Linked DNA regions of Homo sapiens. The protein of the gene in region 2 interacts with the protein of the main gene of each other region in a pairwise test. Each region holds a gene or a part of one and is shown on either strand. Other genes may lie near its edges.

Region 1 (3,500 bases), on a different chromosome or scaffold from region 2:
TGTCTGTCTGTGTCAGTGTCGGTGTGACAGCAAGTGTGTGTGTGAGAGAGAGAGAGAGAGAGAGTGTGTGTGTGTTAGTTACATGCTGCTGCCCTGTACATTTAAATCCAGTGGGTGGGGAGGTGGGGTGGGGATTGCAAGGCGGAGGTGAGGGGGGTGGGCGCTGGGATCTCCTTGGTTCCCTCTCCTTCCTTCTGAGGGAGCAGCTCAGGTTCCCAGCTGGTGATGGATGGCCAGGTCTGAGGGGGGGATGCTGAGGCCGATCGCTCCTTCTCACTTTCTCTGCGGAGACAGATGCAGCTGCCGGGGCCCTGTCCCCCTGCACCATCCCAACACCACCCCAGCCTCCTCTCCTGTCTCTTCCCACCAGGTCAGTGACCCCGGCAACCCATGGGGAGCTTTGGGGTGGCAGGGAGGGACTAGCTTCTTTGGAAACTTGCCAGTGGTGGGACGCATTAGGAGGAAAGGGGACCAGAGCCCAACCTCCCTTTCTCAGTTTGGTTTTTTCCAAAGCCCCAATTTGAAGAGAAGCAGCAGGGGGGTCCTGGTAGTGTGGGTGGGTCTGTGAAGACAGCATTTGGAGGAGGCACAGGTTGGAGCCGGGCAGATACAGGAAGATTCCAGTGTGGTTGCAGGTTCAGTGTCCTGCGTCCGGGCGTTGAAGGGTGAGTGTGAGTGCGGCTTTATGGAGGCAGCTCACATATCCTTGGGGTTGGGTTTTTGTACACAGGGGTGAATGATGTGAGGCTAGGAGGGCGTGTCTGATTTGGGGGTGCCTGGGATCTGTTGAGATGTTGGGGAAAGAATCAGGCTGCTACAGGGAGACCCAGGCTCAGGCAGGCTGAGCCCAATATGTGTCTGGCTATGGTAAAAGATATGCTGGTTTTTTGTCCAAGGTTCCTTTCCAGGCTTGTCAGGAGCCCTGAATCCTTGGGGAAAATGACTTTGTTGTCTATTTGGTAGTAAGGGCCATTGACTCTAGGCCATGACCCCTTTGTGTGAGGCTCAGGTCTGTGGATTCCCAGAAGCCCTATGGATAGGTTGCTGGGATCCTTGATCCCTCTGATACTGTGTGTAAAATTGCTGGAAGTGCACCATACATAAAGGTGTATGGATTTTTTTAGGAAGAGAATGACCCATAGCTTTTATCAGATTCTCAAAGGGATCGATCGATCTGCGCTCCCCTTTTCACAGGAATCACTGCTCCCCAACCCTCCTCCAAGGGCTCCAGTCCCTTTGCCCTTTGGCTGTCCCAATCATATTTGTAGGTCAAAAAAAGACCCCATGTGTGGAGGGCATGCATGGAGGGCACATTTCACCCTGTGCTGTCTTGCTGCTGCAAGAGTGAAGTAAAAGGAATTAGGGTGTGTGCATCCCTGAATATGCGTCCGAGTGCATGTACACTGGTGCCTCGGCATGTCTGTGGGGAGGGATGAGGTTAATCTCCTCCCTAATCTTTCCCAGCTACAATGCCTCCTTCTCCATCTTTCTGTCTCTTCCCCTTCCTGAAGACTCTTGGGGACAAATATGTCCCCTCCACAACTAGTGAACTGGTTCCTTCCAGTACAGAGGCTGCCAGGGTGGGGGCAGGGTAAGGGACAGCGGTGACACAATGGAGCAGAAGCTCTGGAGAATGCCTCTACCCCCTTCACCCTATGACTGGATCCTGGGAAGAGGGTGACCGAGCATATGTAGTGTGGGTGGCTAACCTATGGTGAGCTTCAGTGTATCTCTGTTTTAACCTCTCAGTTCTTCCAGAATCCAGCTTGGGAGACCCCCCAAGCCCCTCCTCTTTTTTTACTAACCCCCCTTTTTGAAAGGAGAGTCCCTAAAATTCTTTCTCTCTCTCTGGGCATTATGCTGTCTTGGCACTTTTCCCACCCCCTCCTTAATCATCTGCCTCGTCCCCAGACAGATAAACTCCATCTTAGTACCGGGATGGAGCTGGGGACAGACCCTGGCACACTGGCTTGGCAGCCAAGACTCAGCCAAGTTAACAAATAAATAAAGAGAGTGGTGTACACTTAAGACGAAACATGGTAATTAAAAATTCTCCTGCTCTCCAGGAACGCGAGGCTCAGTGTTCCTGTTTCTATCCTGTTGACAGTCTCTGGATGACTGAGGGCCCTGGCCTACCCCTTTGGGAGAAGGCCAGTGTTTGGGGGAGGGGCTGAGCTAGGACAGATTTCTCCTGGCTCTGGGAAGAGGATGGCACCACCTCTTTTGGGGTGTGGTCTGTGTGCTGGAGGAAGCCTCCTCCTGGATTCCGGGCCTGGAGGGGTCCCTGGTTAAACTGTCAGGCCCGAGGCAGGAAGAAAGGCAAGATGATGCTGAGGGTTCTCTGCTCTCCAGCACCAGTGACGCCAGCAAGAGATACCCCCAGCCCATTACCTCAATGGAAAGTAGCAGTTAATGAGGCCCCAGGGGTGGGGCCGGAATGCGTCAGCCACCCCTGAGTTCTGCACCACCCTTTCCCTTGGGACCCTTCTTGCCTAGTAGGAGGGAGGGAAATGTTGGTCACTCTGCTCCCATCACCCCAGCTTCCTGCCACCTTGGGGGATGTTGCCTCTGAATGGACCAGAGGGCACAGTGGGGAGCCTGGCTTTGCATCCCTGGGCAGGTGGACAGATTTGGCCTCTTACCCTCTATCCAAATGTGCCTATTTTTAAGGTTGTGGTGGCTGAAGTGAAAGGATTACCTGAGCCCAGGAGTTAGAGGCTGCAGTGAGCTCTGATTGTGCCACTGCACTCAAGCCTGACACAGGAGACTTCCTTATAATAGATTTTAAAATGCAGATGCCTGGGCCCCACCCCAGTCCTATGGAATGGGACTCTCCGGAGGAGGGGACTGGGAATCGTGTTTTTATTTTATTTTTATTATTGTTATTTGAGACAGGGTCTCACTCTGTTGCCCAGGCTGGAGTGCATTGGTGCTATCTTGGCTCACTGCAACCTCCACCTCCTGGGTTCAAGCGATTCTCCTGTCTCAGCCTCCAGAGTAGCTGGGATTACAGGCGAGAACCACCATGCCTGGCTAATTTTTGTATTTTTAGTAGAGATGGGGTTTCGCCACATTGGCCAGGCTGGTGTAGAATTCCAGACCTCAGATCGTCTGCCTGCCTCAGCCTCCCAAAGTGCTGGGATTACAGGCGTGAGCCACCACACCTGGCTGTAATCGTGTTTTTAACAACGTCCTGGTGACTCTTGAATCAGGCCAGTTTGGGAATGGTTGTCTTTTTGCCGTGTTTGTGCTCCTGAAAAGATGTGTGCTGGCTGTGTGTTTCTGTTTGTTCTTGCCAGCGGATTTCATGTCTCATTGATGTCTTTGGTCACTTCAGACCAAAGTATTATTATGTTGACTTGTCCTAAGTTCTCGTTTAGCTGCTGGTGGCTTGTGATTGTTAAACTCCCTCTCCCTAATGCTTCTGTCAAGAAATCAACTATCTATTAATATAAGCCTATGTTTATAAACACTTGGCACCTCTGATATTTAAAGCAAAT
Region 2 (3,500 bases):
AACACAAAAGATAAATGCTTGAAGGGATGTATACCCCATCTTCCATGATGTGATTATCATGCATTATATGCCTGTATCAAAACATCTCATGTGCCCCATAAATATATACATCTCCTATGTACCCACAAAGATCAAAAATAAAATCATTTAAAAATATATTTTTTTAATTTTTCAAGCTTGGTGTGGTGGCTCACGTCTATAATCCCAGCACTTTGGGAGGCTAAGACAGGAGGATCACTTGAGGCTAGGAGTTCGAAACCAGCCTGGACAACATAGCGAGATCCCATCTCGGAAAAAAATAAATAAATAAATAAATAAATAAAATTATTAGCAGGAGGACTGCTTTAGCCCAGGAGTTCGAGACCAGCCTGGGCAACATGGTGAGACCCTGTTATCTACTAAAATACAAACATTAGCCAGGCATGGTGGCCCTTGCCTATAGTCCCAGCTACTCTAGAAGCTGAGGTGAGAGGATCGCTTGAGACTAGGAGGTCAAGGCTGTAGTAATCTGAGATCATGCCACTGCACTCCAGTTTGGGCAACAGAGCCAGGCCCTCTCTCAAAAATAAACAAGTAAAAATAAAAATATAATTCTTCATAATTTTCTTTTAATTAGGAGGAAAATTGAGTTTATAGTTTCCAAAAAATTAAGGTGATTAGCTGAAGTAATATATTTGCATCTTTTTATGCTAAGAAAAACAGATACGAAAGGATGAGAAAAAAATTCAAAATCTATGTTTGTGTTACAAGGGACTTTCAGTATTTTATTTTCAAGTGTTTTCTGTTTTATTACCTCTACAGTTTCAAAAATTATACACAAACTTTGAACTGAAGAAAGCTACTTAGCGATTTACTCTTTTGCATACAATTTAATCAAATAGTTTCTAAATTCCAGTTAACCAGAGATCCTGAATAGAGTGAATTATTTTTCTTTTCGGCATGTACTTAAGATTCTTTCCTGGCTTTTTAAGCTATAGTTTTACAGCTGTTCTATTTTGAAACCTAGTTTTATTCTGCTGCATATTTATGTATTCAATGCTGAAGTCAGCATTTCTGTAATTCTCATTTTAGCTGAAAAGATAGTTCTTTTCTTTTGGGGACAGTTAAACTGAATAAAATATAGACAGTCTATGTGTGACTATATTGACTACTCAAACTGTTGATTAACTCATGTCATGATGAGTATTGTACTCATCTGAGAAGTGACCCCATAATTCCATTAAAGCCTGTGTTTGTGCGTTTCAATCACCACTAAATCAATCTAAATACAGGAAATCAATTTTGAAATACACTTACCAGGATGATTGGAAATGGGAGGCTGGAATGCAAGCTCATTGTGAACAGGCCCTAAAGAAAAGACAACAAAAATTCCATTTTTATTTACTAAAAGTTGTCTAATGCTAAAACTTTCAGTAAATCTTACTTAAATATAACTATTATAGGTTAGGAATTGTTTAAAACAAGCTTATGCAATGTCTAAGAACTTAAAAGTTTACAATAAGCAAATAGTCTTAAACTATTAATACTTTTGTGGATATTTAATAACTAACATTTCAGTGCTATCTGCCAAGTGCTATTATTACACAATTTACACATAATTTTATATCCAACATTTAATACAGATCATAAATGAATTATTCATGTAACGTCCAATACAGTACAATTTATAATGCAATGTATAATAATAAACTGTTAGGTCTATTCTAAAAACAAGTGCTTATGTTAATTAAGGATGTTTATTTAATGGAATCATAGCTAACATAATTGAAAACTGGTAATGTGTTAAAACACTGTGCTAAACACCTCACATAAATTATTACGTTTACTTCTTACGAACACCCCTTGAGGTAGATACTACTATTATTACTCTTGAGGCTTAATGAGGTGAAATAACTTGTCAATGGTCACACAGCCTGTTAAAGGTCCAAACCCAGCACCCTTCAACACTATGACGGCCTAGGCAGCCATTAAAAATTACATTCTCTTAAGAAATGGAAAAAATAGTAACATAACTGAAAAGAAGCAAGATATATACAATACACATAGAGTAGGAGCCCCTGTCAATTTACATATACCTGTTTATATGACTGGAAGGAAAATAACAAAATATTAGAAGTGGCTGTTTTTGAGTAGCAGGATTCAGGGTAATTTTGCTTTTCTTATTTATACTTTTCTATATTTTCTAAGTTTTCTTTGGTACTATTAATATTATAATGAGAAGAAAGGGATTTAATGTATATAAGAGTTATACTCTCGATTTTACTAAGCCATATGAACAATGCTCCTATTCTACCTGAAACTACATGTTATCTGTAGGGTATTCCTCCCAATCATGCCAGCACAGAGTTATCTATAGATTCAACATTATCCAAAGTACACTGAATACTACGCTGAGGGAAACCTTGAGAACTTAGCACTCAAAGGGTTTCAATCCATTATGCGTGGATATACAAGACACAGATGAGATCTAAGAACATATACAAAGCAAACAAACAAATGAATGGAAATCAATGTGATGTTAATGAAACATTAGCAACAGAGAAATAAATGTATTTAGCAAACATCACTCCTCTAAAATAAAAAGGTAGGATAACTATGAAAAATAATACTGTTTACAAAAAATACTGAAAAGCACTATTTAATGAAACAAAATCACAGGATGAATAAAAGATGTAAAAACATTTTTAAAAAACAGAAAACAAAGCCCTACCAAAAAAAAAAAAAAAATAGCCCTTACAACAAAAACAAGAGCTTACAGTAATGTCCGGGATGGGGCGGCATAGGCGGGTGGTGCTGAAGATGGCCGTTTTGGTGGTGAGGCAAATTAGGTGTGTATGGTGCAGTCCTACTTCCAGTCCAGGTGGTAGTGCTGTCTAAAAATTAAGGCCCACATGGGTTAATTTGCTTTTATAAAGGCTGCCTACTTTTTTCTCAACTATTTAAAAGATTTTTTAAAGTATGTACATACTATGATGGTAAGTAGCTGGCTGACCAGTAAATCCATTCTGCTGCTGTCCTGGCTGAGGCCCTGATGCTATCTGCAACAGTCCTTCACTATGGCTGCCCCCCAGTATACTGGCAGGCTGACCTAGAGGAACAAGAAGACATTAACATGGTACATTCATAGATGTCATCTTATGATTTCATATACTAAATGAAGGACCAATTTTATCTGATAATGCACAACTATAAAGATGGGCAAAAAGTGTAACTCACCCATGGCCTATCAGGTAAAAAACCTACAGTCATCTATAAAGGCAAACTTTAACTTGAGGAAGCTCAAAATTATTCCATTTTAGGTAATGTCTAACTAATTGTAGTGGCTTATTTCTTCACAAACATATTTCAAATGCCAGCAAAACACCACTGTACGTCTGGCCTATCATATTAACTTCTTCAGAGGTATGTCAGTTCATCCTGGCCACTCCATCCACCTCTCTCTCTGGACCTTTCTGATTAGGACCCCAAAAATCCAGGCTCAAGAAAATGTTGAAAACTGA

The links. The genes of interacting proteins can lie anywhere in the genome.
Region 1: the proteins of SMAD4 (region 2) and ETV4 interact in binary tests that used the Homo sapiens proteins (3 or more experiments, as listed by UniProt).

The regions. Positions count from the first base shown.
Region 1 is NC_000017.11:43,539,841-43,543,340, reverse strand, and holds part of ETV4 (ETS translocation variant 4), read left to right. Parts: intron 1-3,500.
Region 2 is NC_000018.10:51,057,713-51,061,212, reverse strand, and holds part of SMAD4 (mothers against decapentaplegic homolog 4), read right to left. Parts: intron 3,089-3,500; coding exon 2,969-3,088; intron 2,874-2,968; coding exon 2,757-2,873; intron 1,348-2,756; coding exon 1,297-1,347; intron 1-1,296. UniProt on the Homo sapiens protein: In muscle physiology, plays a central role in the balance between atrophy and hypertrophy. When recruited by MSTN, promotes atrophy response via phosphorylated SMAD2/4.